2 separate regions of the Homo sapiens genome follow, and region 1 is linked to region 2. Evidence: fine-mapped expression QTL. A gene starts in region 2. The other region holds a variant in brackets. All regions are shown on one strand. Distances are between the middles of the regions. Region 1 overlaps ABHD2 (abhydrolase domain containing 2, acylglycerol lipase). Region 2 holds the start of ABHD2 (abhydrolase domain containing 2, acylglycerol lipase).

What was found. PIP is the estimated chance that this variant, and not a neighbour inherited with it, causes the effect.
Region 1: its variant is fine-mapped to the expression of ABHD2 in whole blood (TOPMed, PIP above 0.99).

The regions. Positions count from the first base shown.
Region 1 is chr15:89,125,028-89,140,283 of GRCh38, forward strand. The region is part of intron 3 of ABHD2 (abhydrolase domain containing 2, acylglycerol lipase); the gene reads left to right. It also overlaps the pseudogene HMGB1P8. Among named protein-coding and RNA genes, the nearest start is that of ABHD2, 44 kb to the left of the region's middle. RefSeq lists enhancers at 14,533-15,034, 15,035-15,256. The variant T/TA (reference allele first, on the strand shown) is at 8,240.
Region 2 is chr15:89,081,450-89,096,705 of GRCh38, forward strand. It overlaps ABHD2 (abhydrolase domain containing 2, acylglycerol lipase), which reads left to right and starts at 7,007. Exons shown (of 11, transcript NM_152924.5): 1 at 7,007-7,114. It overlaps LOC124903573, which reads right to left. Exons shown (of 7, transcript XM_047433432.1): 3 at 10,727-10,792; 4 at 9,686-9,834; 5 at 7,386-7,483; 6 at 6,619-7,237; 7 at 6,112-6,492. The coding sequence ends at 6,278. It overlaps CARMAL (coronary artery disease region linked MFGE8 regulatory lncRNA), which reads left to right. Exons shown (of 4, transcript NR_183882.1): 4 at 1,042-2,780. RefSeq lists enhancers at 5,770-6,415, 7,026-7,205, 7,147-7,666.

The DNA.
Region 1 (15,256 bases), 44 kb after region 2:
GCAGTGAGCTGAGATCGTGCCATTGCACTCCAGCCTTGGGGACAAGAGTGAGACTTTGTCTCAAAAAAAAAAAAACCAGTTAGTTGGGCATGGTGGCACATGCCTGTAGTCCCAGCTACTGAGGAGGCTGAGGCAGAAGAATCACTTGAACCTGTGAGGCAGAGGTTGCAGTGAGCCGACATTGCGCCACTGCACTCCAGCCTGGCGACAGAGGGAGACTCCATGTCAAAAAAAAAAAAAGAGTTGTGCAAATATTTCTTTGGATATTTCTGGTAAACTATTAACAAGTGATTGGCAGAACTGTAGTGTTCTGATGTGCTTATTTTGTAGCCACCAGACCTTCAGAGCATATTCACCTGCAAACTTATATTGTTAGAAAATTCCTGAAAAATGGAAGACTCAAAATCATCTTGATTGAGGCTAAATATTAAGGGCTAGCCTCAATAAGTCAAACTTTTAGGCAATTTCATCTTAAAATTGCTCATGTTTCTGGTGAAATAGCCCAAACCAAAACTGTCAAAGTAAGAAAGTTAAACTGCTGACTCTGGGACACTCTTTTATTACTTGGCTGACCAAACATTCCAGTTTGCTCAGGACTGGGGCATGGGACTGTCAGTACTAATACCGGGGAATTCCAGGGCAAACAGGGATAAGTTGTTCACCCTCTCAACTACTCACTATCTTGGATGTTGCCTGCCTGCCCTGTCTCTGCTGTAGCAGGTCATTTATGCAAGGGGCCAGCCACATCAGGAAGAAAAGTGCCGCCATCTTTGAGGTCTCCTATATTGAATCAAGATCACCAAGTCTGAGTCTGCTGCAGAATTCATCCACCTTCTCTAACCTAGATACAGATTGTAGCTTCTTCTTAGAGACTTTATGCCTTCTTATAGGAATTGCCGAAGCCTGAAAGATCTAAAAAAAGGTTCGGAATCCAAAATAGTCAAGACTCCCGTGATTTAGTTCAGATGGAAAAAGGCTCATCCTTTATGTGCCGAGCATTCTTTAAAACAACCAATTCTGGTTTCCAAAAATGTATGACCCTTATACCGCCCTATTCATCATACCTGAGTTTACTCTTCAGGGCCCTACTATGTCTCCAAAAAAGGAGTATATGTCTTCCAAAAGGAAGTATATGCTACAACTGATTCCATCACGTGGTATCAAATTCAGTACATGTGGACGGTAAGTGGGCCTTGGCTCCACGTGTAAGGTCCTGTTTTGAGTCACCCCTCTGTGTCACCCCTTCCCAGACTCGATTTCAGAATCCACCTTGGTTCACCATTCATCCTTAACTTTTAGCTTACACCTCATTTGCTTTACAGGACTTACATGGAATCAGATCTACTTTTATACTCCTTCTCAATGTGTGGTTGACTGAAAATTGCTCCACTATCCGGGAGCAGGAAATGGACCTTGTTTTCTAGAAAGTCTCGAATTTCTAAGGATAGCCAACTTTTATCAGCCTCTCATGTTTTACTGACCCTGTGAATTCAGAGGTTGCCAATTTTGATCTCCACTGTTCTTTTTCTCTGCCTGCTTCTCAGCATGCCCTCCTTCACTATGATAGTACACTTTGTACTACAAAATAGTATATACTTTATGGTAAAATAAAATTAAGACAGTAAACTGACTTGGAAAATATATTCTGGAGGGTAAGTAAGAATTTTTCCTAAACTCTCAGTGCCAGTGTCATGCAGTGATGTGGAGAGTGAAGAGCTGACGGCTGTTTACGCTTTTCTTTGTCTGAAGCAACAGTGAGTGAAGTGACTGGCTTTAGAAGCCCAGTCTTCTTCAGCAGCATCAAGAATACTTCCCTGCAAATGGAGTCTGTTTGGGATCCTGAGCTTTAGGGTCAGAATTTATTAGATGGTGTAATGTTTACTTAAGGAAAGCATTTTCCTGAGTTTATAAGGAAATCTACCCCTCCATGAAATTCTAGAAAGCTATAACTAATACAGAAGGCTGTAGTCCTTGAAGACTTGATTTTATGCATGATTGGATGAGATGCCATTGCTGTTTGCTACCCCATGACTGTCAGTAGTCAGACTGAGAAGTGCCCTCTACCAAGTACCAAGGGCCGGGTACTCCTCAGAGGCCCTCCATCTGCCTGAGGTAGCTGCCTGCAGTGTAGTATCACGGTGAGCCATGGAAATGAGTCAGCCATTGTGGCAGCTTGTGAACCACCCTAACTCTACCTGCTGTCAGTTTCTAATCATAGAGTGAGGGCTCTGGGTCAGCGTGGGTGCATGGCATCAAACCAGATGGCTTAACTTCTGAGGTAGCCATTATAAGAGTCTGTAATCCAAAACATTTGGGAACCCTGCCTGGAGATCAGTGGTTGATCCAGAACCATCTGTAGCCTCCCAGGAAGGGAGAGATTTGTGAGAAACAGCAGGTTATATGTTTTTCTACCCTTCCACTGAGTACTAATGCCATTGCCATGACCAACCTGACTTTCCTGTGATATGTAGCACCAAATCCTCCTGCTGGCAAGACCCTGAACTGGTGTTTTCAGCCAGATCACAAAAGCTTGAACAGTAATTTCTTACTGATGTAAAGTGAGAAACTCCATAAATGCTTTTTAAAATGTTGACACCTGCCAAGCCACAGCAGTATGGACTTTTCCTTCCTTGGGATTTGAATAAAGGAAGATTCTTCTCAGTGAATATATATATATACATATATATATATACACATATATATATATATATATGTATATTTTAAAAATTAGTCAATTAGTAATATTTAGTAACCTGCTCTTCCAGTCTGTTCACCGTCTGTACACCATACTCAGCCCCTTCTATATCACACACAATACTTTTTCTCACATTTCCACCTTCTCTGTCTGTCAGAATCCTCAGGCCTTCTCAAATCGTAGCTCTTCTAGTAGCTCCTGACTTTTACCTGTCTCTGTCTCATTGGCTCTTACCTAAGGACAGGGATGGAAACAATAACTTTCCACATATGTATCTCTCGTCACACCTCAAGTGTATTCTGAGAGGCTTAAGGACAGAGACTGTCTTAAAAATTCTCTGTCTTCCCTGTGGTTGCTGCTTCTTGTAGAGTCAGTACACACTAACTTCAGTAGAGTCTTTTGGTAGGAACATGTGATTGACAGAGTGAGTAATTCAGGTAAGTGATAAAGGAATTTAGAGAAAGAGGGGATATTCCTGTGGTGGCTTGACTGATGAGGTCTTCCATAATCCTGAAAGATTAGTTGGCTTTGGATAGATGGGACAATAGGAGAGAAGGCACAGATGTTGGTGTGAGCATGAACCAGTAAAATCAATTATTTAAACAAGCACTCATGGCAGAAAACTGGCTTTGCTGCCCAGGCCAACACTTTTCACCCATCCACCTTTGTCCTTTTGTCCTGTGGGCCTTCCAACCAGTCAGCAGGATAAGAAGGTGGTAGAGGCCTTGCTGCCATTGACACATATCCACGTTGTCAATGCTTTGCCGTCACCACAGCTACTCTATTCTTGTCTCCTAATTCCATGGATCTTCATTTGGCTAGACTTTGATTGTCTCTCTTGTAACTCCCAAAAATGATCTTGGTGCTGCTTGCATCATGTTTGGCCCTGCTACCCAGTCTGCCCTTTGCTCACTGTGCCCTTTGATTTTGTTTGCTAATGGGTTTTGGGCCCCATCACTGGTCTGGTCTCTATAGTTGCTTCGTGGCCAGCTCCTCACCAGGTCCCTATGCCACGATCTGGTGAGCTGAGAGCTGTTTGATTGTAGCAGAGAGCCCTATGGTCTGTGGGGGGGAGGAAGAGGAGATCAGATCACGAGGAGTCTCTAATTCCCAGAGAGGAAGAGTTTGGGCTTGATCCTGTGAGCACTGGTGGTAGGTGGTTGGAAAGGGAAGGATGGGACAAATTCCAGAGGTCTTCTAAGGTGGAATCAGTGGTATTGGTGGGTAATGGAATGGCCTTGGGCATCAGAGGAAAGGGCTGAATCACAGATTATGCTGAGGTTACTGAGCGGTTGAGAGAATAGAATCATTGACAGAAATAGGGAAGTCTAATGGGGAAGCTGCTTTCTCAAGGAAAGTTGTTTAGCTTGGGGCTTGTCCACAGGATGTGCACAGGGTTATGTGCAATTATGGCATTAGAACTTAGGTGGGAGCTCAAGACCAGATGTGTAGATTCCAGATCAGCTGCAGGTAGGGGAGGTTGTGGGGGTGGGCAGAGAGAGACACTAAAGACTGATGGCTGAGGCAGGCCATGGCTAGGGTGGAAGAGACAGAGACAGGCAGTAAGAAAGGTAGGGAGAGAACCAGCAGCCTCCAGTTCCATGGCAGCCAGAGAAGGAAAACATTGAAGAGGGTGTCAGAAACTCAGGAAGAATGAGGGCTGACCAAAGGCCATCTACCTTGGCCAGAAAGGATCAGGGATTTTTGAGAATGTGTTTTCAGGAGTGAGGTGAATAAACAGGTCAGCACAATAGCAACCAAAGAAGTGAGTCAGGAAACAAACACCAGAGAAGGAAGGAGAAAAAATGGAAACTGGAGGAGAAAGCCAAATTGATTGAAGGTTTTTCCCCTAAGATTGAGAGGGTAAATCCAGGGGCCCAAGTGAGAGGGTGAAGTTAGCGAGCTGTTGCCCCCCGGGAATCCAGAGTCCAGATCAGCAGTGAGACCCACCTGGGCTCAGATGCCAGCCCTGCCCCCTGCTGGCCAGTGGCTTCACCTTGCCGAGCTTCTATTTCCTCATTTGTAAGATGGGTATAATAGCACTTATTTCATAGGTTCAGTATGCTGATTAAAAAAAAAAAAAGAACAGCATGTAAGATGATTTATAGGATACTTGGCATGTGTAAGAGTTCAGTAAATATAGCTGCTATTATTGTAGCTATTTTTATTTTAATATTATCAGCTAGATCAGTTGTACAAATAGCAAAAGACATAATGTACACGAAGGTCACACAAGCACACCTGAATGTCAGTAGGACATCAGTGGGTAAGTGGGTAAAAGATGTGCCTAGATAAATTCCACATAAGGAAATACATGTAATAAGCACCTCATAATGTTAAGACTTGGTAACAATGAAGCCTTAAAACATGAAATATTATTTGATATTCAGAGGAAAATATGGCAATATTGTCAAAATTATATTAAGTTGGACATCGTATTAGTCGAAGTAAACTAGTTTATACTGTGGTAACTAATTACCTCTAAACCTGCACATCTTAAAGCCACAAATGTTTATTTCTCACTCATGCTACGTGTTTATTTCAATGGGCAGGAGGGCTCTGCTGATTGTCATCCCACCAGGACCCCAGCTGATGGAGGTGACATCTCAACACCTGCTTCCGTGGTCATCACCGAGCCAGGAAGAGCAATGTCACACCTCACACACTGGCTCTTACAGGCTGCTACCGGAAATGGCACTTGGTCATTTCCTTTCCCATTTCATTGGTTTGGGTGTCCAAGGGAGATAATACAGTCATGGGTTCTCAGTTTCTGTTTCTGGTTGGTCCGGTAAAGCCCCTTCCTCATCCCTGTTTTTTGCTTATCACTAGAGACAGAAACTACAAACCATGGCTTTAGGCTGCTAAAAGCCTACAAAAGAAACAGAACAATAACAACAAAATAAGGCAGGTTGGACAAGCTTGAGAGCTTGTCCAGCCCATAGCCCACAGACTGCATGTGGCCTGGGACAGCTTTGATTGCAGCCCAACACAAATTCATAAACTTTCTTAAAATATTATGAGATTTTTTGTGTGATTTTCTTTTTCTTTTAGTCCATCAGCTGTCATTAGTGTTAGTGTATTTTATGTGTGGCCCAAGACAATTCTTCCAAAGTGGCCCAGGGAAGCCAAAACATTAGACACCCCTGGTTTAAAGCAAGGCTCGTGCCCATGCCTAACTTGAGAAGCAGCACACCTGTGTCCAGAGAAGAGGAGAATAATCATGGCCACAGGCAGCAGCCTGTGTCACGTGGGCCTCCTTCCTTCTGTCCTTCACTCCATCTCTCCTTCAGTGCCTCTGCTTCACTGCAGGACGTCATCAGCTTTCACCTGGAAGAATGCAATAGCTTTCCCTCCATTCTCTACCCTTTCTAATTGATCTTGCAGGCCACCAAATTATCTTCCTAAAGCACAAATTCATCATGCCATGCCCCTGCTTTAAACCAAGTGGCTCCTCACTGTCTGTAGGGCGAGGTCCAGCATCAGCCCTCGCTCCTTCTTCCCTATATTCCTTGTGTTCTAGACACATCAGATCTCTCCACATTTTCTCATACTGCATGTTCTCTCTTGACTATGTCTTACATTTGCAATGCCTTCTACCTGGAATCCCTTCATACCTCCACACAGCCTCTTTATTTGAGAGAACATAATCACCTTCTTTCTGATGAATGCTTTCTGGACATTTATGGTTCTCTTCTCTGTTGTCTGATAGCATCTGGTGTGGCCTTGGGATCTAGGACCCAGCAGAGAGGTGAAGGGGCAGGATGGGAAGCCCTTCCAGAGGGGAACAGGCACAGGGACTCCTCAGTGGTGTGTCCAAGAAAAAGCAAAACTGGTTTCTGACTATTGAGAGACTAACAGGTCCCCTAGAGTCTGGAGACAAATTGATGATTGGCACATAGAAAACTAAGCTGATGAGGAAATGATAAAAGTGATAACTTGAGGGAAAATAAAAAATTTCACAAAAAAGAATACAACATATGACTTCTTTGTGGCTAATATTTCCATAATTATAATTTTATAAACACTGAAAATTAACCATAAGTGTTGCTGTAACAGTGTTGAAAAGAATGGGCGAGGGGAAAATGTAAGTCTTAGGAGAGACGTAAGAGAGCTAGCACCCTCCAGAGTAGGAAGTTCAATAGGTGCTATTGAAAACTGAAATTGAAGAACCAGCATAAGCAGGATAAGCATGGCATTAAGAAATAAAGGCAAGTGTGGGATGGTAGGGACGACTAAAGGAGTTAAGAATAGTCATCTCTCAGGGGCAGGAGTCAGGAGACAGATGAGGCATCCTGTTGGACTTTTTAAACAGGAGTTGAAAAACATGAAAAAAAAATTCAAGAAAGATGAAAACAAAATATGTAAAGATGTTTTGCTGGCATTGTTTATTATAGTAAAAACTGGGAATAGCAGCATCCAACAATGGAGGCAGCAGCAAGATAATGCAGGGGAAAGAAAGAGCTGTCGGGTCAGACACACACAGAGTTCAAATGCAGGGTCCGCTGTGCAGTAGGCTGTTGGACACTCAGTTTCTGTCTGTAAAGGGGGTCCTAATAATAAGAATCGCTGTAAGGGACAAATTGAATTATGTAACATGCCCATAGAAGGGGCTAAATAAATGTTTGCTCCCTCCCTTAACTATAGCTAATAAACAGGATAGAATTTTATGCAGACGTTCAGAACTTAGCATACTAATTATCTATAAAAATAGAGAATAAGTGAAAAAAGCAGAAGACAATTATATATCTCTATCTGAGCACCATTGTTGTAACTATGTAAATACTCTGCTTTCAGATAGATATAGATGAAAAGGAAACAAAAATGAGAATATTTTTGCAAGGCTTGTGAGGATATGGGTGATTTTTAAGCTTCTAATTTCTTATAGCTATTTCAAATTGATATGAAATTAAGAGGACTCTGAATATGCATTTCATCTTTCATAGTTTTGAAAGCCATTATCTTGTTCATTCCTAATAATAAGCAGTGACACCAGCACTGTCCTTTGCATTTGTCCTTTATATGTAAAGAGAGATGGACTTTGCTTTAGTAGGACTTTCTAGAACATGCTTATCTGCATGGTTTGGTGGCGCTCTCTCACTTTGTGGACAAGATGAAGGTCTGGTGCCTAAGCTGGGGTTTCTCAAGGATGGAGTTGTTGACCATCTGAGAAAATGTTTTCCTGTGCCCACATACCGTAGGGGAGGGCTGCCATTTCAACAGGGCTAACCCACAGCCATCAACAGTGGCTTCTATCAGCTTTTTGTAACTGTTCCTCTGACGGAAAGCTCCAGGGCAGCTGCATCATTTCCTTCCTCTTACATTTGTGCTCAAGGCTCACCCTGGTCAAGAAGCCTGGCTGCATTTCCCAGAGGTTCTTTTATCAGCCAGTAGAACCTATGACCTTGTACCCTCCGTGTTGCCCTTGCTGTCAGTCGGCTCTTGTTTATCCTTCCATCTTTTCTTTGTGAAATATCACTCAGAGATTTGTCCATAGGAGTGCTGAAAGAGCTTCCTCCATTTATGTCTTGACTGCTTCGTATTCCA[T/TA]AAAAAAATAGTTTGTTTAACCAGTCTCCTAGATAGAGGTTTCCTTTATTTGTAATCTTTTGCTTTCACAATGTTGCATTGAATGCTTCTGTATTTTCATCACGATGCGCACCTGTCAGTATAGGATAAACTCCTAGAGGTGGAACTACTGGGTCAAAGGGGATGTGCATGGAAAATTTTGCTAGCTGTTGTCCTCAAGCCTCTCCACACCAGCACTGTGAGCACATTTCCCCAAAACGTTGCCAACATCAGGAGTTCTACTTTTTGATATTTGCCAATCTGGTAGGTGAAAAATGTTTTCTCACTGTGGTTTTAATTAGTCTTTCTTTGATTAAAGAGACTGTGTATCTTTTCATATTTTAGAACTCTTTTTATTTCCTTTTCTGTTCACTGCCTGTTGGTGGCCTCTAACCATTTTTCTGATGGTCATTGGTCTTTTTCCTAATCATTTGAGGGAGCTCTTTATGTACTAGGGAAATTAGCCCTTTGTGATATGAATTGCAAATATTTGTTCTCAGTTTGTCATTTGTCTTTTGACTTTGCCCATAGTGGTATTTGCCATGCATAATTTTTTTTTTTTTTTTTTTTGAGACAGAGTCTCGCTCTGTCACCCAGGCTAGAGTGCAGTGGCGTGATCTCGGCTCACTGCAAGCTCCGCCTCCTGGGTTCACACCATTCTCCTGCCTCAGCCTCCTGAGTAGCTGGGACTACGGGTGCCTGCCACCACGACCGGCTAATTTTTTTTGTATTTTTAGTAGAGACGGGGTTTCACCATGTTAGCCAGGATGGCCTCGATCTCCTGACCTCGTGATCCTCCCGCCTCAGCCTCCCAGAGTGCTGGGATTACAGGCGTGAGCCACGGCGCCCGGCCGCATAATTTTTTTTAATGTTTGCATAATTAAATTTTTCAATTGTTTCTTTTGTGGCTTCTGGGATTTCTGGTTTCCTTAGAAAGGTCTTCTTCACTGCAAGATTATTTTTAAAAGCCTAGAATTTCTTCTAGCATATGAATGATTTCATTTTTATTTTGAAATGTTTCATCCTTCCAGAATTTATCCTGGTGTGAGGTGTGGCTCCAACATAATTTTTTTCAAGACGGCTACACTTTGTCCAACACTATTAAACAATCCATCTTTACCCCATTATTCAAATGCCACCTTTTTCACCAACTAAATTTCCTGGATGTATTTAGGCATATTTCCAGTCTTTTGTGTTCTGTTGATGGTCCTGAACATATACCATCAGCAGATTGCAGCTTTGTACTATGTTTTGCTGTGGGCAGTGGGGCGATGCTCATACCCCAGCACTGCTTGTTTTCATACTTTTCTTGGCTATTATAGCTGGTTCATTTTTCCAAATGAACTTTAGAATGCTTGTTTAATTCCACATATAAAAATCTTATTATTTTTATTGTGTATCTCTTAAGTTTATAGGTAATTTAGGGAAAATTGACATGTTTGTGATGCCAAGTTTTCCAGTGCAAGTTCATTTATTCAAGTCTTTGAGCCCGAAAGAGCATTATAAAGTTTTCTTATCTCCTTTTCTTGATTGTGAACTCCCTGGGAGCAAGAATGGGGTCAAGTTTTGAGTATGGCTTATTAGTAATGATCTATATAATTACTGACAAAAGAAACATAATTTTCATTAAATATTTGTAGAACCTACTTTTTCCTAACATCATTGCTTGCCATTTTATGAGTTGTTTTCTGCACATCAAAGAAAGGCAAGATGTAGTACAAATGCTGATGTCAAATGTCAGCATTTTAATCCTTAAAGTCATCTCTTGATTGGTGTGTTCTTTCTTTATTTATTTTTAATAAAAAATTGTATTTGCTTAGAAGCATTCAGAATGTCAACAAAATGGCTACAACTTTTTCTTTTTTTTTTTTTTTTTTGCAATTACAGAGTGGTATTCACTTAACAACAGTCATTTTATATAAGCTGCATCAGAGACAACTGAAGATGAAAAAACTACCATCCCCATATATAACTAATTTGTGCCATGCACTAACAAGAACCTGCTTTTAATTTCCATGCCAGTTTACAATCCCCATACTGTACTAGGCAAGGTTGGTGGCTATTGAAAATACCACCAGGACAGGGATATCTAAAGACACATTTGGTAGTGTGTTAACTATACAAAAAAAAAAAGACATTGTACAGTTTAAAAACAAATCTTACACAGCCTTACATTTCAGTTTTTTTCTTTAAAAGGAGTGAGTTATGTACAGGTTAAATGCTTTATAGACGAGAAAAAAAACTACACTAGAACCAACTTATTCATCATCATCTTCATCTTCCTCCTCCTCATTCTTATCCTCTTCATCTTCCTCATCTTCCTCCTCTTCCTTCTTTTTCTTGCTTTTTTCAGCCTTGACAACTCCCTTTTTTTGCTGCAGCAGGCTTTCCTTTAGCCCGATATGCAGCAATATCCTTTTCTTACTTTTCCTTCAGCTTCGCAGCCTTCTTTTTATAAGGCTGCCTGTCATCTGCAGCAATGTTATTCCACATCTCTCCCAGTTTCTTTGCAACATCATTAGTGGACAGGCCAGATGTTCTCCTTTGATATTTGGGCGATACTCAGAACAGAACAGAACAGGACAGAACAGAACAGGAAGAAGGCCGAAGGAGGCCTCTTGGGTGCACTGGGATCCTTTAACTTTTTTTTTTTTCTTTTGAGATGGAGTTTCCCTTTTGTTGCCCAGGCTGGAGTGCAATGGCGCAATCTCAGCTCACTGCAACCTCTGCCTCCCAGGTTCAAGCGATTCTTTTGCCTCAGCCTCCCGAGTAGCTGGGATTACAGACGCCCGCCACCATGCCTGGCAATTTTTTTTTTTTTTTCAGTAGAGACGGGCTTTCACTGTCTTGGCCAGGCTGGCCTCGAACTCCTGACCTTAGGTGATCTACCCGCCTCAGCCTCCCAAAGTGCTGAGATTACAGGCGTGAGCCACCACACCCAGCCTGAACGTCTTTTTTGTCTCCCCTTTAGGAAAGATACAGGTTTTCGTTTCTCTTTCGTATGGGCCCTGTCTGCCTTTGCCATATCTTCGAATTTTCCTTTCTGTTTAGTAGGCATGGTCTTCCACCTCTCTGAGCACTTCTTAGAAAACTCTGAGGAGTTGACTGAAGCATCTGGATGTTTGTTCTTATGTGCCTCCCTACAAGTTTGCACAAAAAATGCATATGATGGCATTTTCTCTCTTGGCTTCTTAGGGTCTCCTTTGCCCATGTTTAGTTATTTTTCCTCAGCAAGGCACAGAATTGCCCAGTGCCCATCTGGCTCTCACTTGCCCCAGTGCTATCTCTATGGAGCTCATTGTACTGCAATGGCTGTGATATCGGGAGCCAGGTGCAGCCTCCTCACTCTCTCCGCTCTATAACATTGCTCTCCAGCCAGCGCAGCTCCTAGTTGATTAGCGTGTTCTTAAAAGAGCATTCTGTGTAGGTAATCCAGGGGCTTCACATTTAGGTATTTGAGTTTTCCTCCACTAGGAATAGTGGCAAATATAATGTGATTTTCCAGCTCTAATCTTCCCTCCCCATAACGCTGGCACAGATTTTGAGGTAGCCTTGGCCTGGGAAGTAGCCAAAAGGCACTGTGTTGGACAAAGAGCAGACCATTGGCATCTATGTGCATGTCCTCAGGAGAGAGGTGACTAGGCAGATGGGGACAAGACACGGGTGCTCTGTGTTCTGAGCGTCAGCGTACATCCTGTTTGGTTAGCACAGAGTGAGTCTGGGAACTTTGCACTTAGCACCTTGGCAGCCCAGGTCTGGGAATAGTGGTGCCTTCTCCTAAAGTTAGGTCACTAATCTTTGACTGGCTGTTTGCAGGACCAGTTCTCTAACGGATCCAGGGTTCCAGTGGAACCCTGGAGACTGGAACTCTGGAGCTTCTTAATAAACTGCCTCCCTACTTAAAGCATGGTGTCAAAACCAGGTTGAAATGCAACGTGAGGAGAGAGGACTGTGCTTTGGTGTGCCTAGGGAGGATGTGACCAGTTCCGCGTGCTGTTTGTGAACAGGAAGATAGTGGGATCAGATGCATTTAACATGTGGATACAGTTCTGAGGGGTTTTAACTGGTTTTCTTTGAACTTTAGAAAAGCACATTTATTTTTCCTTGGAGCAAAAAAGTAGTTTCTTTTTAAGTGGTTTTATTGTAACTCATGGGGCTGTTCTCCTAACATTCATATTTTATAGTTTGCACGATATGCACAAAGGTCACAGATGTACCAGCCTGGCCCAGTGGCCTCCGTCCTGTATTTAGAAACCAGTTCGGGAACGGAAGAGGATTGCTCTTTTGTTTCCTCAGGCCACTTTTGGTCATTTCAGGCAGAAACAGTCTCTGCATTGGAATTTTCCTGTGCAGATCCTGCAATTCAGGAATAGAGCATTTAGCAACAACAGTGAAAATGTAATGTGTGACAGCTGTGGAGAAGAATTTGCCTCCAGTGAGGGGAAAATGCTGTGTTCAAAGTGGATTTCTGATGAGCCTATTAATGGGTGTTTGGGAAGCTGAATATGTTGCTGCCATTTTGAGATGAAAGGCCCAAGGTGTTTGTTCCTGAAGCTAATGAGGAAGCCCTTTCCCAGCCTCAGCCTTACCTCCCCAGTAGGACTGGTGAGATGTGCACACAGGGTCTACTCCACATCTGGCCCTCCTGAAAAGAAGGGCTTCCAGTGGGGGCTGTGTCCTAGTGGAGAAGGGTGAAGCCCAGTGGGATGGGCTCACGAAGGACCTGCTGTTGACCTGCTGGCTTCAGGTCCACCAGGCTAGGGGTAGATAGGCCAGAAAAGAAACCAGAGGTGTCTGTGGTAGGAGCAGCAAGGGCCCTGGCTTCCAGGCCTGTGGAGCAGGGAGGCTCTGGCAGTTCAGGATCTGGAAAAGAACTGACAAAATGTTCTCCTAAACTCTGGCCCTTGCCGGCTTCCTTACCTTTCCTGTGTGCACACACATGCATGCACATGCACATGTGCACACACAGGAAGGCCTGGAACTCAGTTTGCAGACTCGTGGAGCTGCCACAAAGCTTCACTCCCAGTGTTTCCCCCACCACTGATGCTTGTCCTCCTGGGTTTATTCTCACCCATGAAAGTAGGGTAAAAATGTATCCCCAAATCAAACACCTGTCACCTTTCTAGAAGCACTTCCATCCTCTCTTGCTCTCACTGTCATCGCTCTCCTGGATCTTTGGGGAGATATTCAGTATGATTTTGTTAACATTCTGGCCTTATCTTAGAGATAATTAAATGTGAATATTCAAATTAATTAGCCCCCAGATGTATCTTCTGCAGAAAAAAACTCCTCTAACAAGAAGTCAGTTACAGTTGTGAGAAACATGCAAAACGAAAGAAATGTTTTTTTTCAAAGACCTGTGAAGACCACTGTAGAGAAGCTCCAACAAATTCAGTTTTCAATTTGAAGAAACATTATTTAATATAGAACATTTTGACAGTTGATCAGACAGGAGAAAATAGGCACAAAGCTGTTATTTTAACTTCTGGTTGGGGGAGTTGATGAGTCTTGAGTGTGATAAAGTAAGGAACGCTTTGGACTGAATCAGAGACCTGTCCTCTAATCCTAGCTTTTTTTTTTTCTTTTTTTTTCCTCATTTTTAAAACGGGGAAGACACCATTGCTCAGAATTGTGAAGATTAAGCTAGAAGGCCGGGCAGGATGGCTCACTTCTATAATTCCAGCACTGTGGGAGGCTGAGGTGGGAGGATTGCTTGAGCCCGGGAGATCAAGACCAGCCCTGGCGACATAGCAAGACCCTGTCTCTACAAAAAAAAATTAACTGGGCATGGTGGCATGTGCCTGTGGTCCCAGCTACTCAGGCGGCTGAGATGGGAGGATTGCTTGAGCATGGGAGGTTAAAGCTGCAGTGAGCCGTAGTTGTACCACTGCACTCCAGCCTGGGTGACAGAGTAAGACCTTGTCTCTAAAAATAAGTAAATAAATAAACTAGAGACATGACTCACCCAGCTCCTGATGGAGAGATTTGGTGCTCAGAAATATCTCTCCTCTCTGAGATCTTGGTACTCCCCATGATGCACTAAGTGAAATTGGTACTTCTCAGCCTCATGATTGTCTCCCCATAGTATCATCCTATTCTATCTCTCTGACCCCATTGCCCACCGCTCCTGTCTGTGACAGTAGCTGCCTGTGTATTCATCATGCATCCTACCTTCAGATTACGAATGCCACCAGGGCGGTCACTGTGTCCGGCTCTAATCTCTGTATGCCTCACAGCACTCGTATTTGTTGAATTTTATTAAATCAATATATAAGAGCCAAAATAAAATATAGGTAGAGGCAGGTTCGGACCTGATAACATCTTTGGTTTGGCCCCAGGTGCCAGCAGCACACTCCTAGTTGGGCATCCTCAGTCCATGTTGTCACTCTGAAAACAAATCTGTTTGTCAGAGTAAAGGTCACCTTTTTTTCTCAGTGGACAAATATTTTTTTCTGAAATGAAAAATTTGCTTTTCTTCCCTTGAGTGTGTGCACTCAAGTAAGCAGAGTGGAGGGCCTGTGAAGATGGGCATTCTCTCTGGAAACTGAGGAAACATCCCGAGCCTATGTCTCCTAACAGTCTTGGCACCTAACTAGAATCTGACCGGAGTTTCAGCACGCAGCCAGCAGAGGACATCACCAGCCATTTGAGTGTGCAGTTGTCTGGAGCAGCCACGCAGCAGGTCTCTGTAGCCCTGATGGAGAGAGTTTTCTTCTTGGGAGGGCTTCCCAGGATGATGTAACACCTCTGCGTTTTGCCTCAGTGGCTGAAGAGTCCCTTTGGACTTGGGTTTTGCAGAAAGAGAGGGGAGTCTGAGGGCAGAGTGTAAAGTGACACAGCCGGTGTGTAGAGCTGAGCAGCCTGTGTTAGGAACAGTCAGAGCCTGTGGACTTGTGAGGCTTCCACTCACGTGCTATGTTAGCAGTTCTTTTCCTCAAGCTCTACTGAAAGACCTGTGGACCTGACATTTTATGGTCACAAGCCCTGGAGAAGATAGCC
Region 2 (15,256 bases):
CCTGGCATACAAATCAAATGTAACTTAAATGCCACGTCTGCATTGTGGGTGATACAAGAGATGATTATAGAATAGCACATGGAAGAACATTTAAAAACATAAATTTAAAATGTCATATTTAAAAATGTAATAGTTGGCCGGGTGCAGTGGCTCAAGCCTATAGTCCCAGCACTCTGGGAGGCCGAGGCAGGGGAATCACTTGAGGTCAGGAATTCAAGACCAGCCTGGCCACTAAAAACACACACACAAAAATTAGACAGACGTGGTGGCGCACGCGTGTAATCCCAGCTACTCGGGAGGCTGAGGTGGGAGGATCCCTTGAACCCAGGAGATGGAGGTTGCAGTGAGCCAAGGTCGTGCCACTGTACTCCAGCCTGGGCAACAGAGCAAGACTCTGTCTCAAAAAATTAATAAATAAAAATAATAAAATGTAATCCTTATGAAATGATTTTAATGTAATTAGAATAACTATAATCACACTTTAAGCCTGCAATATCACATATATTATTGCTTCGGCCCACAAGGTTTCTCAACCTCAGCACTATTGACATTTGGGATAATTCTTTGTTGTGGGGCTGTCCTGGGCACTGGAGGGTGGTTAGCAGCATCTCTAGCCCCTACCCACTAGAGGTCAACAGCACCCCTGCAGTTGTGACAACCACAGACATTGTCAAGTGTCCCCTGAGGGATGAAACTGCCCCCAGTTGAGAACCACTGGTTTAGGATGGGGCTGAATAAGGTATTTAATTTTAAAAGTTGAGTCAATTTAATAACATTATTAAGTAAATAATAAAGCAGAGAGTACAGAGATAGGGTCAAAATTATCAATGTGGTTTGCAGATGCCTGGAGTTTGGGATGTTTGCTCTGCAACTATGCGAGGATATCCAAATACCCAAGGGGCTGAGACGAAGCCATTAACTAAGATGAAGGCATTATCTGGCCTCCACCACCAGCCCCATCCATTTTTTTCATCTTCTCGCCTACTGGGTCCCTATTTGACTCTGCTATGGACAAACTATCTTGTGTTCATCCACTCACAGGCCTACCTGGAATGCCATGCTCCCTCACCGCCAATGCTGCCCTACCAAATTCAGCCCATAGACCTTCAAAAACCAATTCAAATCTCCAAGAATCCAAGTCAGAAGAAATTGCTGCCTCCTCTGAATAATTATTGCTGACACTGATTGCACTCTGTGCTTATTGCTCAGTCCTTTGAGTTATCTCGTCAATATTTCCCATTTGTCCTATATCCATCCCCACCTAGGAATGAATGGGACTTCATGATTCTGTCTTTCTAGTATTAGATGTCTTGCTCAGTAAAAAATGTTTACTGTCTTGTAAATTAATTTAAATATATGGTAAAATAATATAGGGGTCTCTGGAAAGATGGAAATTGTTTGTTATTGTTTTTGAGACGGAGTCTCACTCTGTTGCCCAGGCTGCAGTGCAATGGTGTAATCTCAGTGCAATCTTGGCTCACTGCAACCTCCGCCTACCAGGTTCAAGCGATTCTCCTGCCTCAACCTCCCAGGTAGCTGGAATTACAGGCGCCTGCCACCACGCTGGGCTAATTTTTGTATTTTAAGTAGAGACGGAGTTTCACCATGTTGGCCAGGCTGGTCTCGAGCTCCTGACCTCAAGTGATCCACCCGCCTGGGCCTCCCAAACTGCTGGGATTACAGGTGTGAGCCACTGTGCCCGGCCTGTTTTTGTTTTTTTGTGGGTTTTTTGTAGTTGTTGTTATTTTTTTACACTGCATCTCGCCTTCTCCGGAAATAGTTTTAAAATAGCTCAATAACATAAAATTATGTAGGAAAGGGTGTATGATGAGCTTATTTAATGCACAAGTTTTATCGACTGTTTTGCAATTAATAGTATGAAAAACTCAATTTTTATTTCTGTAATTAAGAATGACATCAGGAAGAGGAATGCATGGTGACTAAGAAGAAGTCATCATTAGCCAGTCACCTGTCAGATATTCTGTATGTATCTGATTATAAGATTAGAACACTTTTTCATCTGTGTGTGTGCGCGCGTGCACGTGCGTGTATGTGTGTTTGTGTGTTTCATGAGCATTTTTAGTACTGGGTCCTATATATGTAAGTATAAATATTACCATAAAATTTATCAACCAAATTGGGACTATTTGAGAGTCACCTGGTGGGAGGGAGGGCACTATTAAAATTTTGCCAGGACAACATACATAAGCCAGGAGTGTTCATCTTATGATTTTACTATAGACAACTCACATATAGCTTAAGAAAGCAGCTCAAATCACAGACAAGATTATTTTTCATGATCGTTTTCACTGGCCACCAGAAAGCCTTTTCTAATAACAAAAGGACCACATTTTTGAATTTCATCATAGTTTGTCCTCATGGAACTATTGCATGCTGGGACTTAAAGCCTCTAAACAAACTTCATCTCCATTACCAATAAGAAGCCAGACAGTCGACCTGGTAACAGGACATTCTGAACCTCCTTCCTAGACTGCATGCAGACTGCACCGGCTGTGACAATAAAGCCACAATATTGGATCCCTCAGACTGCACCATGTCATGACTGCAGGAATACTTTATGAACCTCCAGGCTGCAGCTTTTACTATTATTCTCTTAGCCTCATCCTTTCCATTTCCCTCACAGTGATTACACTGATGAGGTCTAGTCTCAAAAACCTTAACTCGGTCCTCAAACCGTTTTTGGTAACCATATTCGAAAGGAAAAGTTTCTCGCACCAGGTGGTGAGATTTTGCTAGTGTAAAAAAAAAAAAAAAAAAAATCCTGCATGTGTTGGAGAGTGTGTATATAGGAACTGTCTGTACTTTCCACTTAATTTTGTTATAAACCTAAAACTATTTATTTATTTAGAGACAGAGTCTCCCTCTGTTGCCCAGGCTGGAGTGCAGTGGTACGATCTTGGTTCACTGCATCCGCCGCCTCCTAGGTTCAAGCGATTCTCCTGCCTCAGCCTCCCAAGTAGCTGGGATTACAGGCACACGTCACCACACCCAGCTAATTTTTGTATTTTTAGTAGAGACGGTGTTTCGCCAATTGACCAGACTGGTCTCAAACTCCTGGCTTCAAGTGATCCGCCCACCTCAGCCTCCCAAAGTGTTGGGATTACAGGCATGAGCCACGGCGCCTGGCCCTAAAACTGCTTTAAAAAATAAAGTCTATCTATATTTTCTAAAAATCCTGAATCCTGTGATCACTACTTCTGAGGGCTAGAACTTAGAAAATGAGTGAGGACCTTAGAGGAAGGTTCTGAAATGGGCTCCTATAATAGCTGTGGCAAACATTTATTAAACATTTTTAGGTATTTGCCAGGTACTGTTTGATGCACTTTGCATCTGTGAACTCATCTGCCACTCAAAGGACCCCATGAGACAAGCACTTCACTGTCCTCTGCGTTTTACAGAAGAAAGTAGGGCACAGAGATGTGCTGTACTCGCCCAAGGTCACAAGGCTAGGAAGGATGGAATCAGGATCCAATCCCCAGCAGTAGAGCTTCCAAATCCCCTTTCTCTGAACCATCCCCCGAGGACACAGAATAACAAAAATGACAAACTGAGTGAATTGCTGATTTTCCTTAAAAGAATAAATAGAACATATTATCTGCTCCAACCACTGCTCCCTGCTGTCTCCCAGAGTACCTTGACTTTCTCAGGTTAGTAAATCCTGCAGAGGCCCCAGTTGAGTTAGAAGCAGTTCTGCTTTAATGAAGTCCTGCAGCTTTGGCCATCCCAGAAGGTGACTGGGGCATACCCTCTCCCTTGTTCTTTTTTATTACAAGGTACTGTCACGGTTTTGAAAATTCACTTTACAGCCACATCCCAACACCTGCTTATCTCAGGCCAAGGCTCACCAAATCCTCAATCCCAACGGGCCACTAAACTTGAAGGCAAAAATAAGTCCATTTTGTCTCCTAAATGGCCTCCCTCAGAAATGATTTATAGAATGAAATAATATGATTAAACAGAATATGGCAAGACTGCAAGCAGAAGGGAGGAAACAGAAACCAGAGACAATTAAGGAAACAGTTCTGTGTGCTGGGAAATGATAATGGATCATTCTTTAAGCCTGCCAGAGCTGCAGAGAAGATGCCCGGATCCTTTTACTCTTCCTCCTCTTCCTGAGCTCAGTCTGTGCCTCTTTTTGAGCCTCTGTGACATAATTGTGTTTTAGAATTCCTGAACTGGAAAGATGTCCTTTTCTGGAACTGGTGGCTGAACCTATGTTCCTGAGATGGGAGAAAAAAGCCATTTACACAATGGCGAGCCCATCTGCAATCTACTCCTAACAGCTGCTTTTTGTGGCTCTGAATCAAGTTGGAGAAATCATCCTGGATCTCAGGAGCCACTTCATGCTTTTCAGGGCCTAACAAGACATCTCACTTTCCCTTAGCAAACACAGGCAGAAGCAAACCTGTATTGGGCTGGGCCTATTTCCGTAACATGCATGCAGCCATGTGTATGGCTACCAAGCAGCACTGTTTAAAGACAAGAACCAGAAAACTGTGGATCAGAACCAAATGTGTACATAGATATGTGTACACACCCCTCCAAAACTAGTGACAAATCTTTTTTGTTTTTTTTTTTCTGAGACAGAGTCTCACTCTGTCATCCAAGCTGGAATGCAGTGGTGCAATCTCACTGCAGCCTCTGCTTCCTGGGTTCAAACGATTATCCTGCCTCAGCCTCCTGAGTAGCTGGGATTACAGGTGTGTGCCACCATGCCCAGCTAATTTTGTATTTTTAGTAGAGATGGGGTTTCACCATGATGGCCAGGCTGGTCTGGAACTGCTGACCTCAGGTGATCCTCCTGCCTTGGCCTCCCAAAGTGCTGGGATTACAGGCTTGAGCCACTGTGCCCAGCCTATTTTTTAAATTATTATTAATTTTTAATTGACAAAATTTGTATATATTTATGATGTACAACATGCTTTACTTATTTATGTTTATCATGTTATTATGTTTATTTGTCAAACAAGGTCTCACTCTGTGGCCCAGGCTGGAGTGCAGTGGTGCGATCACAGCTCACTGCAGCCTCAACTTCCTGGGCTCAAACAACCCTCCTGCCTCAGCCTCCCCACTAGCTGGGACTACAGGCATGCACCACCACATCAGGCTAAATTTTAAATTTTTTGTAGAGACGGGGTCTCACTATGTTGCCCAGGTTGGTCTCAGACTCCTGGGCTCCGCCTCAGCTTCCCAAAATGTTGGATTACAGGCGTGAGCCACTGTACCGGTCCATGTTTTGATACATGTATACATTGTGGGATAGCTACACCAAGCTAGTTAACATATGCATTACCTTATATACTTATCTAGTGATAATCTAAAGCTCTTTTTTGGAAGTCCAAACTGTTTTAACTCAGAGTCAGGACGATGGGGTTCATCACTAAGAGACTTTGCTACTGAAGCCTGGGTTTTTCTTTTCCAAGATGAAAGAGAATACAGAGGAATATATAAACACTGAGATGAAACCTTTTTTTTTCAAGGTAACATGACAACTGAATGAAAAATAGAGCAATGGCAAAGGATTCTTTCTTCTCCTTCACTCTGATGTACCATGGCTGTGAGTTCTTTCAAAGACAGACACAAAGGGTCTGGGGCTACATTCAGGCCTGAGAAGCTATTTCTGTCCACACTCTGTGATGTCTACACCTTCAGAATGGGGAATGGGTTTCAGGGGTCTCTGACAGATAGAGCTCATGCAATGATTTCTGGTCCGGTGCTGATCAGCCTTCAAAGGATGTTATTTGGTTACGCTCCATAAAACTTGAGCCAGCCCACTGTTCCTTGTCACAACCTGAAATATGTTGGGAAAAATTTACATGGTAACAAATGCCACTTCCCTTCTCTGACTAAATCGCTCCTCTCATTTCATCCCCTGCTCCCTCTCTCCGAGCCCTATGGGGCCTTGGTAGGGTGGCCTTGTCTGCCCTACAGGGGTTGCATTTCAAGTCGCTCAAGTGTTCTATTCTTGGTACACGACATGCCATTGCAAAAGCAGTTTCAGGCTCATAGAATTTTAGAAATGGGCCTAGTTTCCCAGCCGGATGAGGTGAGTGGGTGATGGGGGAAGAATCAGCCTTGATTGAATGCCTGTTGAGTGCCAGCCACTGTTGGCATTTATCAGAGTTTATTTAATCTTCTCATCAACTACTATTGTTACCCTCAGTTGCCAAGTGAAGGGAGCATGCGGGAAGGTTAAGTGACTTGCCCAAGCCCACACAACCGGTAGGAGCCCCAATTCCAGGCCCTAGTTCCAAGGCTACATTCTTCCAGGCGGCCTCCAACTGGGTTGGTTAAGGGTTGAAAGGACAGTGGGACAATAACTGAGGCCCGTATTGCCCAGAGCGTCCCCATCCCCCGTCCGGAGCTGGAAGAGGCCATAGACCGCTGCCTCCACATCTTTTCCTCTCCTTCGGGTTCGGTGACTCACGACCCTTCTTCCTCTCTCCCGGGATATGACCTCAAATTTCACCCCTGCGAAATTTGAGTACACGTGAGTCAGTCAGTCGGCCTGGACCCATAAGAGCCCCAGCTGAGCTACCAGCAGCTGAGCTACCAGCCGACCTCATTCCTCTGAGCCCAGTCGACAGCTGACCTTACCCAGCCCTCTAAAGCAGTTTGCGGTCACAATTACCCGTCTCTTCACCCCGCCCCCATCGACATCAAACACGACCCACCTTCTAGCCCTCCTCCCCTTTCCCCGCCCACTCCGGGCTGGCCTTATCCAGTAGCGTCTGGGTCCCTGGACTAAAGCCGTCAAATGTAACCAATTGCTGAGGAGCTCTCCCCTAAGAATCCCGCCTCCACTCTGAGGAACAGCTTCGCTGATCAATGGATCCCCTCCTAGACGCAATGAGCGCGCGGGGCAAGTGGAGAAGCGGCTGAACTGCCCAATGAACAAGCGGTTTCCGTGGTTAGGGGCGTGGCAGAAGCGGTCGTCAGGGGCGTGGCGGCAGTTACTTGGGCGGGGCCGGTAGCGGCGGGAGCTGCACTGGCCAGGGGTTCCGGCTGTATATCCATGAGCGCCGCTGGCAGCCGGGGAGCTGCAGGAACCAGACTGGGGGCGAGCTGAGCACCTGTAGTCAATCACACGCAGGTAAAGCCACGGCCGAGCGAGCTCCGCGGAGCGGGGATCGCACCCCGGACCCGTCGAACCGAATCTCCGAGCCCCGAGGTCCCCGGCGTAGCTCGGCCCATCACGCCGCAGCCTGAGGGGATCCTGGGGGGCCTGTCATCTGGCGCCGTGGGGGTCCCAGGGGCTGGCTTGCCCAGTGGTGGGGACAGCCCAGATCGCGGCGGGGGATACGCCTTCCTGAGGCCCTTTGTCCCCTTCTGCCCGAGGAACCGAGGTTGGGGACAACCCCGACCGCGGCCTTTCCCCCATTGGTGCTCACTCCTGGGTCTTCAGGGGCCTGGGGAGGGGTCTGCCGGTTCAGGCTCGGCGAAGAAGGTCCGGGATCCGCACCTGGAAGGAGAGGGCCGAGGGGCCTGATTACAGCCCGAGATACCCGAGAGGCCTCTGTGTTTCGGGGCTCCAGGGGCTCACGCAGGACCAGTGGGTTTAAGTTCTAGAAAGGCAGCTTTTGACCCACTTGGAAGCACATTTACCGAGTTCGGCCCCGCGACCGGCACTGTTCTAGGCCCTTCGTGAGCTTTTCCCACAGCTAGAGCTGTCCAGCAGCGCAGGAGGCTGCCTGCCAGGCCGGGCAGCTAGCGCCTCGACCTTGGCGATGTCCAAGCAGTGGCCTGATGACAGCCACCTGTGTCGGATGCTTAGGACTCCCAAGGGAGGACTGCATGACCCATCTGTAAGGGCCTTCTCTACCCACAAATGCACTCTAAGTGGCCTTTGATGCCTAGCTTGAGAAGAGTACTTCTGGGGGTCCATTAGGTTCCAAGTGGCTGTTGAATTCACCCATAATGAATTTTGAGGTTTCAGCTCTCAAGAGTGGGTGTTAGCAAAGAGACTGGATTATACAAAAAGATAGAGGTTTATTTAGCCACTGTGAAACTCCTTGTATTTGAACTACCATGGACCGCTCTCTTAATCTTCCCAATCTCTCTTTTTTGGTTGCTGGACCTCCAGTTTGTCAGTTTCACCTGCATTCCAGTAACCAAATCCAAAGGCATGTTCCAAGAACAGGCTCCACAGAGGGACCTGGAGAGACTGCAGGTTTGGCAGAGTCAACAAGATCTGTGCCCAGAGCTTTTCGAAGGCCGTTTCCTTACAGCCACATTAAGCAGAGTCCAAAAGAGAAATCCTTCACTACCCTCTGTCATTTGCCGGAATAGAGAGAACATAATAATCTAAAGGTCAGGAGGCAGAGAAAGAATCTTAACACACCTTGCTGTGTGTTTTAGGATGAATTAATCTTTGAACATCTAGTCAGAAAGCAGTCCATATACAGCTGGTAGTCAGCACGGACTGTGACATTTTAGAGCTGAAGGCACCTTAGATAGAGCTCATCTCTATCTAAGTCTAATTAGGTGGACTCTCATTCAGTCTCCTCAATGCACAGGTGAGGAAACTGAGGCCTGGGGTGGTCACAGGGCTGGTTGGTCATCACAGGCCCATGACTAAGGGTTGATCTCTTGACTGTATTTAGATCTAGCCAGTGCATGACTTATTTCACTCCAAGCTTAGTTTGCCCATTCTCAGTGTTTTAAGTTCTAGGGGAGTCCAGAGAGGTTAGGAGGACAGATTTTGGTGCCTGAGTGCCTGGATTTGAATCCCAGCCCTGCCTCTTACTGGCTGTACAACCTTGGGCAAGCTACTTAACTTCTCTGTGCCTCTGTTTCCTCACCTCTAAAACAGAAATAATAATGATACTTATGTTAGAAGATTGTTTTGAGAAGTGCATGGAGTTACTACATCTGAAGCATTTAGAACAGTACCTGGCACAGGGTAAGCACAATAGATTTGCTAGATATGATATTCTGTTGCCTTTTTGTACATTTTTCTTCATATCCACCACCCAATACTCTATCAAGAGCTAATTTTTCCCCCAGTCCCCTTCCCCCCACCCCCAAATTCATTTAACATATTCCAGATTTCATTTTAACACAGACAGCTGCAAGGGGTTTCCAAGTCACGTTGCATTTTATACCTTACTTATTTTTGTGATTCAGGTAATTTAGTTTCTATGTTAGTTCCCCCTTGCAGTTACATTCTTCTTAGGCTCTGAACCCTTTAAAATTATCGTTAAAAGCAGGCAGTGAGGGGTGGGAATCCCTCGAAATGGTAAAGTCCTGGATGATACCCGTGTCCATGGTGTCCTTCCAAATATGTATTCCCTCTCTTCAGCCCTCCTCCCAAGCGATGAGTGTGATGCAGCTTGATTCTAAATGGATGAACATTTTTAGATTAAGATTTTATGAGCCACTGTATTAAGTGCTTTTCGGAAGTTCAGGGATCATGTGTCAACTGCATTTAAGGAAGTTACTTAGTCATTCGAATAGGGGGAGCACCAGCAGCGCCTGCCTGGCCTGGCAGAAGCAAAAGTGTGTGACTGATCCGTGCTGGCAATCTAGCTGGTTCACTGGTTTATCTGTGTTTTTCCTGTTCTTTTCCAAAGCTTGAAATAAACCAGATGGCAAGTACAAGGGAATGGTCTTTTTCCTCTCATTTTAGTCAGGGTCGTTCACTTTTTTCCCTTTTTACTCTCACCTTCATTTCCTTTATCGCCTGCGTGGGTCTGACAAATAGGCACTCTCAGTGTGCCAGCCAATTCCCTTTTGATGAAAAGATGCCTGCCACTTTCATTTTTTGCAGGAATCCAGTCACCTTTGATTTTCTCTTCTGTTTTTACTTGTTTTCTAGATTGAACCAAAGATTATCACTTCATTAAATGGCACCTTCTCATGCTTTATTTTTCTTGAGTTGATTCTGAATTTCGGTTTTTGTTTAAGCTGTTCTAGAGATCAGCCATTTTAGAATAATAGTTTTCATTTCTTTGCTTGTGTATTAATATGGGCCCCTTTCTCTCTTTCTCACTCTCTTTTCTCAGTATTTTGGTGGATGAGCTTCTCATTTGCTGTTACTCGTTGCTTTAAGCATTTACGCCTTTTCCTGGTAATCTCCGGCAGGACCCATAACCTCTGTAGTGGTTCTCACTGCCCTTGTTCAGAGCTCCTGCCCCGAGCAGGAAATAATTTCTTTGGTCTTATGGGAGACAGGGGTAGAGTCTGTCTTATTTTTTGCCTAAAATCTGGCTCTTTTAAAAGCCCCAGGAGAGAGACATTTCCAATATAATTGAATTTTGTGTGGCAGAATTTCTACCATGACCTACAGCTTACAGTATTCCCATTTTTATTGCATTGTGAGTTTTGAGTACTCCATGACCAGTTTCAGAGTATAGATGATGTGGGGCATGAGTTGCTTTAGCCTTTCTGTTTCATCTTGGGCTAAGCTATCCCCAGGAACAGAGCAATGAGAAGTTCAGGGTGCCTCTTAAATGTGTCTGGTGTCAGGATTTTATAGCAGCTTTTCATGGTTCAGCCTTTTTGGCCAGTGCATGAGTAGGACATTTTTAAGCCCTGTGCTGCTGTTTCTTTGTTGATACCATACAGATGCTACATTATCTCCTTTCAGGATTTTCATATCTGCAGATTGATTTTTGTTGTCTTGTCCAGGGCATCATATTTTTGGATTGAATGTTTTCTGTTTGTAAAATGGTTGGTGTGGACAGACGATAAGCTCCACCATTACCCCTGAAGCTTGTGGACTGGGGCCATTTGGGTGAGGGGCTTGTTACACACCGACTCATTGTCTGATCTTTCACAATAAATAGCAGACAGGTGAAGAGCTTTTTAGAGAAGTGGAACGTTGGTACCCTTGGATTTGCCTGGTTTCTGATTTTCTTTTGTTGTCTTTAAGTGGAGGTTCATTAAGTTCAACAAATTAAGCATCTGGTGTGTGCCAGGAACACAGTTGACAAGATTAACAAATTAGTTTGGTTTGTTGCTTAAAAACTATTTTGTTTTAAAATTGTTTTTAATAGAAATTTTAAAATTTTTTAATTCAAATTTTAGTTTTTAAAAATAGGCAATACATTCACATGATGAAAGAAAATTTTTTAAAGGCACAAAAGGTTAACTAGTAAATACATCTGTGTGTACCCCTGACCCCTGATCCTCAGAGGCAACCAGTATTAGCGATTTCTTCATCCTCCAGAAGTGGTCCCTGAACTTCCAAGGGATTTTATACATCTGTAAGCAAATTCGTTAAACATATTCTGTACACCACCCCTTTTTGCAGAAATGGTAGCACACTGCATACATGCTATTTGGAACCTTGCCTTTTTCACTTAATATTTCTTGGCAGTGTGAAAAGAGCTTCCACGTCATTTTTTATGAAGGCCGTCTATTTTAGATATCTGTTTTCTGTTTCTAAGGATGCTAAAAAACAGTCTTATTTAGGCAGCAGCTTTGCTGGAGATCTTAAAGATCTTGTGAATATTTGGAGGCAAATATTTTTCTTTTCTGTGAGAGCCCGGGGGAGGTGCAGGGGAGCTTCTAAAGGTCAGCTGAGAAGGGAGAGCTGGGGCACTGGAGAGTGAGGAACGCATTGGTCCTTGGGCCCTTCTTCGCCTTGCCGTCTGTGCAGAATGTGCTAGCATTTCCAGGGAAAGTTTGCCGTTTGCTCTCTGTTCTCCAGAGAAGCTTCCTGGCCTCCCCAAGTCACATTTCCAGCATCTTTTTTCATTCTTTTTTTTTTTTTTTTTTTTTTTTGAGACAGAGTCTCACTTTTGTCTCCCAGGCTGGAGTGCAGTGGCGCAATCTTGGCTCGCTGCAACCTCTGCTTCGCGGGTTCAAACGATTTTCCTGCCTCAGCCTCTCAAGTAGCTGGGATTACAGGCACACGCCACCACCCCCAGCTAATTTTGTATTTTTGGTAGAGACAGGGTTTCACTATGCTGGTCTCAAACTCCTGACCTCAGGTGATCCTCTTGCCTCAGCCTCCCAAAGTGCTGGGATTACAGACGTGAGCCACCGTGCCTGGCCTCATTTCCAGCATCTCTGTTGCATTTCATCCCGTCTCCTGCACCACAGCATCACTCCATTTGTCCTGCCTTTGGGCGTCCAAGAGGAAGCCTGCCCTTTGTCACAGCACTTTCTGTTTGGGTAGCTTTAAGTGTCTCACCCCTTCTTTTCTCTCACCCCAGGAAAAACCAGCTCTCACACCTGCTCCTCTGTAAAGCGTCTTCCCCAAGCCCACACGTAATTTTGTTGCTGTCCTTGAAAGTATTTCCCAAGATCTCCAAACCGCTTTAAACTTCCAAGGTCTGAGCCTGACCTGGCCTCGCTAACAAAGGGTTCCACTGATGCCGACTCTAAGAAGAAAGTTTTCAAGGTTCTTCGTATTTGAACTTTCTATGGCTAGGCTTATGTTTAAAATAACCACACTGATTTAAACATGGTCTTATAGTCTTCAGTGGCTCCCAGGTCTTGCCTCTCGGGTTTTTTTTCCTCTTTCCTTTGAATGTGCCTTAACCTTCGTCTTGCTTTTATTTACCTCTGAGTCTGGTTTAGAGCCACCTGGAAATTGAATGGAATCTTTAGTCTATTAGTCTAATCTAGAGTCCTTACCTTCTGGCCTTTGCTCATTGCAGAGCCCCCACATTATTAGTCAGTTGTACCACAGATACTGTGTTACATAAGGTGAGGAGAGGGAGGTGGTGTTATCAGTTCCACTTTTTCCAGGCTAGAGTGCAGTGGCCCGATCTCGGTGCACTGCAACCTCTGCTTCCCGGGTTCAAGCGATTTTCCTGCCTCAGCCTCTCATTTTATCTTGGATAAAAGAGAAGCTTTGAAAGATTGCCTCCCTATGTGTACAGTCACTGTAGGCATGTATTTGTGTACTGTTTACTTAGTCATGTCAATGAGGGCAATAAAAAACAAAAATCAGGAAGCCCAACATGGATTGCTACATTTTAATTCTTTCAAATAAGGAAATACAGCAGGGCTTGGTGTCACTACGCCTGTAGTGACAGCACTTTGGGAGGCCGAGGCGGGCGGATCACCTGAGGTCAGGAGTTTGAGATCTGCCTGATCAACATGGTGAAACCCCGTCTCTACTAAAAATACAAAAATTAGCTGAGCATGGTGGTGTGCGCCTGTAGTCCCAGCTACTTGGGAGACTGAGGCAGGAGAATCACTTGAACCCAGGAGGCAGAGGCTGCCGTGAGCCAAGATCGCACCACTGCACTCCAGCCTGGGCGGCAGAGCAAGACTCCGTCTCAAAACAGCAACAACAACAACAACAAAAACAAATAAGGAAATACAAAAGCCCTGTCATCTAAAAAGATATTTTAGCCTGGGTGCGGTGGCTCACACCTGTAATCCCAGTACTTTGAGAGGCCGAGGCAGGCGGATCACTTGAGACCAGGAGTTCGAGACCAGCCTGGCCAACATGATGAAACCCCATATCCACTAAAAATACAAAATATTAGCCGGGCATGGTGGTTCACACTCAGAATCCCAGCTACTCGGGAAGCTGAAGCAGGAGAATCACTTGAACCCGGGAGGCAGAGGTTCCGGTGAGCCAAGATTGAGCTACTGTACTCCAGCCTGGGTGACAGAGCAAGACTGTGTCTCAAAAAAAAAAAAAAAAAAAAAAGATATTTTAGCACCAAAAATGTTGGAAGATCAATATCTCAGATTAAAGAGCACCTTCTAACCAGGACATATTTAGCTTACTAAAAAGGTTGAGTTAATGGCCATTGAATTATGCTGTTTGGGAGGGCCTAAAGTCGAGGATTCTACTCAAGGAGAGGTTCCTCTTTTGCAGTTTCCTTAAACAATGCTCGTTACTCTTTTTCTGGGAAATCAGGCCATTGATTTAGTTTAGTTAACCTAACTGCAGCAGCATTTGGCGGGGCTTTGCGCCCAGTTTTTCAGGTGGTACAGACTACACAATGTTGATATGCAATTGTAGCACCTTATAGTGAGGTGAACTTATACTGGAAATCGTTCTTTGAATCCTGAAGCCTGGATTTGTCATGTTTGAAGTGCCACGTTTTAGTTCTTAAGGACTGAGGAGTGGGAGGGGGCTGAGGTGAGACCCCAGCAACCTGCTGGAATTAAGTAAGGCTCTTCAGTGGTATTTACACATAAGTTCTTTGGAAGCATGTACTTAAACTTACTAAATCCATGATTTGGTATGCCCGGTAATGGCCCAGATGGCTTCTGAGATACAGCATGACCTCTCTTCCGTGTCCCCACCACACTTTTTGCTTTCCTCGTGTAGCACCATCACATTCATTTTGTGCTATGGATTTCCCAATCCAGGGCTGAGGATGTGTCCTTGAGGTTCCTTGGGTTCTCATTAGATTACAAACTCAGACGTTTTGGTTTCGTGTTAATGATAATTGAAAATGTTTTACAAGCCTGTCCTGGAATGTTGGGATACCTAATTATAATATCAAGGTGCACCCACGTCGTCTCAGTGCCTCCCCCGTTTGTATGTGAATTTCTGATGAATTGAAGCCAGGTAAACCCCACTATAGAGAAAAATACAGAGATGAACTTCGCGCAGAAAAGATATGAGAGCATCATGTGAAGTCAAATGATACCACACAGCACTGTGTAAATGAAGGCTGTAGCAGTGGTCCCAGCGAGAAAAGGAGTGTGAGAATGGACTTGTCACACTGTACCTGTCAGTGTAGGCTCTCGGGATCCATAGAACCTGCCCAGGCACAGGCAGGACCACACTGACATTGTCTGCAGGTATTTCAGGTCTGAAAAATGGCATTAGTCTCATTACATTAATGTAGCTCATCTGAATTTACTGTTTGAGTAATTTTATGTTTTTATAAATGTGCCTGGATCTCTGTAATCGTAAAAGTGCCAAAGGAAGTTTATGCTCCATACTGAGTACTATTTGTACTGTTTGTGCATTTTAAGAAATAATATAATAAATAATAGTTGGATAAAAGTAGTTTAATTTAAATTTAAGAATGGAACACAAAGTAATGTAACCAGGGGCATCTGGCAGGACTAGTTTTTCCCCTCAGAGGAAGCCATTTGGTACCTGAGTTTGAAAGACCCCAGTGCAGGAATCGAAGCTCTGGGAGGCAGACAGAGGTTTCCAGTCATGTTTGTGTCATTCATATGGCTCCTTTCCATGTGCTGACCATTTGAGAAATATTAGCTGAGTTGAAGAGTTAATTGACATAATTGGTTTTCTGCCTTGAGGTCCTGTCTGTTCGGACCCTGAAAGTGATAAAGTTATTTGGAG